Homo sapiens: one gene and its partner. The protein of the gene in region 1 purifies or fractionates together with the protein of each later gene. This does not show direct contact. Each region holds a gene or a part of one and is shown on either strand. Other genes may lie near its edges.

Region 1 (3,929 bases):
TCATGCCGGGCCATAAATTCTCAGATGCAGGTGCCATAAACCTTGGGCTGTGTCCCGAGGAAAGGCAGGCAGAGGGGACTGCCTGGCCCTATACCTGTGCCGCCGCTTCTTCCTCTTGCCCAAGGTGGGGGATGCCTTTAGGTCATTCCTGTCTTCAGACTGGCTGTCCTCATCTGATGGCACAGAAAGAAGAAGAGGACTTTAAGGGTGATCATATCCCCTCTATTTCCTGGATTTTAATGTGAGGATTGAAGTTATGAACCTCTTGGGTACTTAAGTAGTTTACAGTATGAGCCAGCATTTTTAGTGCCTACTAGATCCCAGGCTCTGTGCTTAACACTGTCCATACATTATCTCAAGTATTCTTAATATAATAATAAAACACCAAAATGGCTGCTGCTATTATTATCATCCTATTTTTACAGATGAGGAAACTGAGGCACCGAATGGTTAAGTAATTTGCCCAAAATCACACAGGTAGTAAATGGTGAAGTTGAGAATTCAAATCCCAGATTATCTGAAGCCAAAACTACTCAGCCACTGATTGCACTTTCTATCCCCACACTGCTTCCAAACACATCCACCCCTATGCCCCCAGCCTCATCATCTTAACCTCTACACCAACATTTCCCAAAGGAAGTCTGGGGCTTGTGACATCAGAACCCTCGTCAGAACTGCAACCCTTCCCTGATGCACCAAATCAGAATCTCTGGAGGTGGGATCTAGGAGGCTCATTCTTGACAAGTGTGCTCAGATGATGTGTAGTTGCCCTTGAAAATTTGAGAACCACTCCACTGTGCTTTACCTTTTTATATCCAATACATCAAAAAGTCTAGATGGAAAAGAAGGTTAGAAGGCCAAACTATTGTGAGATTCATTGCTAGAAGGCATAATTGCCTCAAAATATCTTTAAAATGAATAAAGGCAAAAATAACTAAATAATACTAGTTTTACTCATCCATCAATTAGTTCACCAGAAACCTGGCTTGGATTAAAACATTCTGTATTGGGCTGTCCAACCTGATGAGACATGAGACACATAAGGTTATTAAGCACATGAAATGTGGCCAGTAAGATCAAGACATGCTGTAAACATAAATCACTTAATGGAGTTAGAAGACTTAGTGCTCCTAAAAAGTAAAATATTTTTGTATTGATTATGTGTAAAATGATAATATTTGCTATCATTGTTGGGTTAAAATATAGTATTTAGATTCATTTCACTTTTAATGTGACTGTGAGAAATTTCCGTCAAACATGAAATCACATTTCATTTTTCTTGGACAGCTCTGCTCCAGACTTTCAGAAATGCTGGCAGAGTTGGATTTAGCTGCCTTTGGTTTTGTAAGAAAGAACCCATCCCATGAAAACAGTTTTGCATTTTTAGTGACACTAATAGGGAGTTTCATTTTATCTTACGTAGAGCTCATGAAATAAAGTCCTTTTAGAGTGGAGCAAAAACCTGCCTGCCTATTGATCTGACATGCTTCCTTTTAGTATCAGAAGACCCAGTCTACTCTTTTTGCCTTGGCTGCCTGGATGCTCAGCTCTAGATTCTACCACATACCATCCTTTCTTGTGTAATTCTTTCTTTTCTCTCCCACACCCAAAACCACTCGTTTCCTTAGCCCTTGTCCTTTATAGAATTTCATTGCTTCCTTCTCTTTCCCCGCGACCCGTCTGGATTTCTTTGGGGAAATGGGTAGGCCAGGAACACATCTCTAGGCGTAACTACAATGAATCCCCAAGGTTGCTTCTTTCTCCTGCACAGGGGACTGGGAGGACGCTGCGCCGGCAGAGGAGCGCGGTACCCGGGACTCCCTTTTCAGCACCCCAAGGGGCGGACAGTTCCAGGGCTCGAGGCCCCGTACTCTTCCAGGACCCGTCAATCATTCGATCATTTCCGCCCGCGTTTCCACCTGGTACCTTGTTCGGTGCTGCTGGTGACCACCACAGGCCCGGGCCTTCCCGACCCACGCAGCTGCCAGAGGCGGAGACTGGCGCCTGGCGCTGGGGGGAAAAATGGCCCTCTGGAGATGGTTGTTGAAGACCCCAGGGTCTCATCAAAAGGTTCCACCCGGAACCAGGTGGTGGCGGTCTCACATCGCTGAGGGAACAGGACCCCGGATGAGAGGCAGGGATTTAGGATGCAGCAAGGGGCAGGCGGCGCAGCTCCGCGAATGCCCCTCCCGCGACGGGGCCTCGCTCTGGGCTCCCCGCCTAGATCTGGGCCGCTGGGGCCAGGGGTGCGGTGGGGCGATGGTCTGTGACCCCTGCGCGGCTCAGAGCCTAGGGGACAGGGGCAGGAGCGGAAAGCGCGGGCCTGATTACCGGACGTGGAGACGCTGTCGCTGCGCTTCTGGCGGCCGAGCGCAGGCGGCGGACGGCTGGGAGCCAGCGGGGCAGCGGGCTCGGGGCCCCTGGGCGGCAGGAACGGCACGTCCGCTAGGAGCAGGCAGGGTGCTCGAGCGGCCGCCGGCGGCTGCGTGCCGAAGCCACAGAGGAGGCCGAGTCCCAGCGGTAGGGCCCCACGCGCCAGGCTGGAGCCGTCAAGCCCCGGGCCCGGGCACGGCGCGACTGCCGGACCCTCGCAGCCAGATCCCTGTCCTGGGCCAGCGGGCGCCGGCAGCTCGGCCTCCAAGCCCAGCAGGTCCGTGATGGCGAAGCCCCGGGGGCGCGAGCCCCTAGGGGAACCGCCAGGCACCAGCGCCCTGCTGCTAGTGCGCCCGTCGGAAAGCGAGTCCCGGCCGGTCATGGTTCCTTAGCAAGCAAGGCGCGAGCCTCTCTGGATCCCGTTTGCGGAGGGCCCAGCTTAGAGGAAGCTTTATAGGATTGGGCTGCCGGTCGGGCGCGGGAGGCCTGAAGGGCTCCAATCAGCTGGGCGCGGGCGCGTCGCCGTTCCGGACCCCGCGAGATGGGGACGCCACCAGTTCCCCTCCCCTCGGTTACCGCCCACCCAGCTGCAGTCCCCTCAGTCACCTCCTTCTCCTCCTCTCTTCTGTCCAGCCCACCCCACCCCACCCCACCCCCATTCTAGGAGGGAGGGGAGGAAAGAAGGTAAGGGACAGTGACTCCGCTGTCTGCCTGTCCCTCGAAAAGTCGCAAGTTCTACATCCTGGCGTGGCCTTCTCCTTCCTTCCAGACTCTCTGGGTGGAGGCCCCACTCCCAGCTGCCCTGAAGCTTCTTTGATGCGACCCAACTGCCTATTAAGACCTAGGACCCCATTCCCAACCACACCCCGATGGCTACCCCATATATGTCCCCAGCCAGCCCTCCACCTCCGCCGCCGGTGCCACGAAGGCCTTCCTGTAAGAAGGCCTTCTCTGAAAATCCCCAAGGGGAAAGGAATGAAAACCGTGTATTTAATCCATGGTCATCCTACCTCCATCCCTTTAATCCATGGTCATTCTACCTCCATCCAAATCCACCCCCAGGTCCATCCCCAACACTCCACGGGCTGAACTGTAGGGGGTGGCAGACTCACAAGAGCTGGGGAAAGGGAGAGAAGCAGAGAGAGGAGTGGACTGCCCGGGGCTGAGACGGGCAGGGTACCAGGTTTAACCAACAAAACACTGTCGGCTCAGTGAAATGTGATTTCAGATAAAAAAGGAGGGCTTTTTTTTTTTGTAGGAGTATGTATCAGTATTTTATCCAGCAACCCTAAATTGGGGAGGAGTGGAGGGAGGTAAATTGAAATAAAATAGAGTCTGTCTACTGGAAAGCACACCTTTTCATCGGGGCTTACAATTTATTGTCCAATTTCACGATTATTCAAAGAAAGCCTGATTCTTTGAATAATCAGTGAAACTCTGATATTCGCTAAAGTTGGCCCCAAGCACGTGGGTAAGTAACTACTGGTTCGCGCTTTGAACCCAACCAGCCCTCATCGCTCGGAGCCCTGCGTCCCCCGCTTCCCAATCCCAGAACC
Region 2 (3,500 bases), on another chromosome or scaffold:
CATAATTTAAATAAATCATTCTCCTGTTGATAAACATTTAGGATATTTTCAGACTTCTGCTGTTATAAATAAGCAGCCGTATTTATGCTTGTTTTGGTACATGCACAGATACTTACCTGGCATCGATACCTGGGAGAACTAGGTTGCATTATTTTAAATCTGTTACCAAAATTGCCTTTACAACGTGCCATACCAGTTTATACTCCCAGCAGCAACAGTTGAGAATGTCCATTTCTCCATACTCAAGCTAACACTGGATGGAAACTAAGTCAATTTTTATTTTGCCAAAGTGATGGGCAAAATGATATTTTGTCATTGTTTTAATTGTTATTTCCCAGTCCCTTGTCATGTATTATTTAGGCATTTGTATTTCTACTCTGAATTGGCTATTTTCCTTTGCCAGTTTTTAAAATTTTTTTTCTTGTTTTGTAAAGGGTTTTTTTTTAAATATTCTGTATATTAAACCTTTACATAGTCTGGATATTAATATGCAAATAATTATCCTTGTTCGTCACTTGTCTTCATTTATGTTGACTTTGCCATACAGAAGTTCATAGTTTTTACATAGTCAGTCTTTGATGTGTTTTGTATTCTGTTCAGTAGCAACAACAATTATATAGGTTGAGCATCCGTAATCCAGAAATCTGAAACTTTTTGAGCTGCATGATGCCACATGGGGTGGCTGAGGTAGTAACAACTTTACTTTCTGATGGTTCAGTGTACACAAATTTACTTCCCTGCACAAAGTTTTTAAAAATACTATATGAAGTTGCACTCCATCCTGGGCAACAAGAGCAAAACTCCATCTCAAAAAAAAAAAAAAAAAAGTACTATATAAAGTTACCTCCAGGCTATAAGGTGTATATGAAACAAATGAATTTCATGTTTAGATTTGAGTCACATCCCCAAAATATCTCATTATGTGTATGAAAATATTCTCAAATCTGAAGCAGTCTGAAGTCCCAACCACTGCTGGTCCCAAGCATTTTAGATAAAGGATATTCAACATGTAGTGATATTGCCAATATTGTTACTGTGGTTGTTGTTGAACAGAATACAAAACCTATTGTTGTATTCTAAGCACTTTTAATCTTCCTCCCAGCCTTGTGAGGTACAGGTACTGCTGTGAGCCCCATTTTTCAGATGAGGAATTATGGAACAGGGAGCTTGAATAAGTTGCCTATGCCACGCGTGCAGTTAGAAGTAGAACCATAGCACCAACCCAGACAGCCTTGCTCTAGCAGCTGTGCCCTCCTACCCCCATAAAAAGCTTCACTCATTCCCTTTCTGTTTTTACAATGACTTTGCAAAGAAAGATGGTATTCTGTTTTGTTGTTGTTGTTTTTGAGATGGAGTTTTGCTCTTGTTGCCCAGGCTGGAGTGCAATGGCGCAATCTCGGCTCACTGCAACCTCTACCTCCCGGGTTCAAGCGATTCTTCTGCCTCAGCTTCCCAAGTAGCTGGGATTACAGGCATGTGCCACCATGCCCAGTGAATTTTTTGTATTTAGTAGAGACGGACTTTCACCATGTTGGCCAGGCTGGTCTCAAACTCTTTACCTCAGGTGATCCACCTGCCTTGGCCTCCCAGAGTGCTGGATTATAGGCATGAGCCACTGCGCTTGGCCTGCTTTTTTTTTTTTTTTAAACTTACTATGGGATTGAACATTTTCTCATGTTTTTTAGCCTTTTGATTGTTTTTTTCTTATAAATTGATTGCCATTTATAAGATTGTCCAGTTTGGTTTTCTTTTATATGAGATTTGCTTTTATATGTTGAAAATGTTAATAATTTTCAGGTTTCACTTTTTTTAAAACTTTTTTAAAGATTTCTAATACATAGAACTTAATTTTATGTAGTCATATCTGTATCTCTTCTAAAATGTAATTGTTAATTTGTTTTATCTTAGACTTTCCCTAAATTTTTTTCTAAATTTGTATGCATTCATTTTTAAAATGTAAAATCTTTCTGGAACTTATTAAATGTACATTGAGGATCTAAAAATAAAATGTCCTAAATAGGTAATTTTTCTCAATGCATTTTATTGACCAATTCATGTATGTTCTTGTGTGTGGGCTTATACTGGGCATTACTTTGTGTGTGGCATGGTGGAGTCAGGCTGCCCAGTTTGAATCCTGGCTCTGCCATTTCTTGGCAGTGTGACTGTACTCTGTCTCGTCCCATTTTCATGTTTACAAATAAAGTTAATAACAATATTACATGGTTGTTGGGGATCAAATGAGATACTGCCTCTAAAGTCCTTACTGTTCTATGGTAGAGTTGTATATTGCCAAGCACAGGGTAAAGCACGCTTGATGTTAGCACCACCAATATTTCAGTTATATTTACTCATTTGTGTAACTGCAGGGAACGTTTTGTGGAATTATAAAGTCTCACATTTGGAAGGGACTTGAGATTATCTGGATTATATAGATAATTCTTGATAACATGATTCTTAAACCTGACTCTACATCAGAGTTAGTTGGAGGAGCTTTGAAAAGCCCCACGTTCTGGGCTTACCCCTTATCAACTAAATCAGAATCCCTGGGATGTATGGTTCAGTAATTTATTTTTGATAAACTTTGTGGGTCTAAAGCAGTTGGCTTGGCATTGGCAAATGGTTGTCCAACTTCTGCTTTAAAGCTTGCCAAGTTGAAATATTTGTGAAATAATAAGTCAGGTAAGCTAATAAGCAATTTCTTCTTAAATTCTCAGTATCTGTTATGCCAATATATAAGGATAGGTTTTGCCCTTTTCTCAGGATCAATTAGTAGTATTTTTAAACAAGATTTTAATTAATTTTACATTTTCCCCAAATACAGATAAAAGTTTTAGATGCGAAAGTTATTTGTTATACATTACAAAAACATTGTGCATTTATATTTTAGTTCTGATCCAATACTAGATATTCTTTTATAAATTGGTTTTTTATGAAGTTATGAATTCTGAAATAATTCTCTAATATAATGTTTTTATTTTCAGAGCTTTTTGACAACTACATGCAACAAGATGCCCATGAATTCTTAAATTACCTACTAAATACAATTGCTGATATTTTACAAGAAGAGAGAAAGCAGGAAAAACAAAATGGTCGTTTACCTAATGGTAATATTGATAATGAAAATAATAACAGCACACCAGACCCAACGTGGGTTCATGAGATTTTTCAGGGAACATTAACTAATGAAACCAGATGTCTTACTTGTGAAACTGTAAGTATATCATACAATTTTGTATAGAGAAAAATTGAATTACTATGTTAAAGGTTGTTCTTTGAGAAAGACAGAATGGAAGATGAACTTGAAAGTTGTAATTCTTAGGTATAGGAGTTAAAGATGTATTTTTCAGTTAAAAGGAATCTGTCTGTATTCTTAATGTAATGTTGCTTATTGACAATGAATACCTGAGGTGATAGAAAGATACTTACTGTAGCTTGAACTGTTTGATTTTCTTTCAGTTTAGGAGGCCATAGAACCATGTTGTGGAAATTATGTCTTATGA

Evidence for each region.
Region 2: the proteins of VSX1 (region 1) and USP12 purify together in Homo sapiens (affinity purification with mass spectrometry; 4 studies listed by BioGRID and IntAct, with this or other methods). This does not show direct contact.

The regions. Positions count from the first base shown.
Region 1 is NC_000020.11:25,079,342-25,083,270, forward strand, and holds the start of VSX1 (visual system homeobox 1), read right to left. Parts: upstream 2,801-3,929; 5' UTR 2,756-2,800; coding exon 2,332-2,755; intron 1,991-2,331; exon of another isoform or gene 1,927-1,990; intron 174-1,926; coding exon 95-173; intron 1-94. UniProt on the Homo sapiens protein: Binds to the 37-bp core of the locus control region (LCR) of the red/green visual pigment gene cluster. May regulate the activity of the LCR and the cone opsin genes at earlier stages of development. Dispensable in early retinal development.
Region 2 is NC_000013.11:27,095,312-27,098,811, reverse strand, and holds part of USP12 (ubiquitin carboxyl-terminal hydrolase 12), read left to right. Parts: intron 1-2,981; coding exon 2,982-3,211; intron 3,212-3,500. UniProt on the Homo sapiens protein: Deubiquitinating enzyme that plays various roles in the regulation of the immune response and inflammation.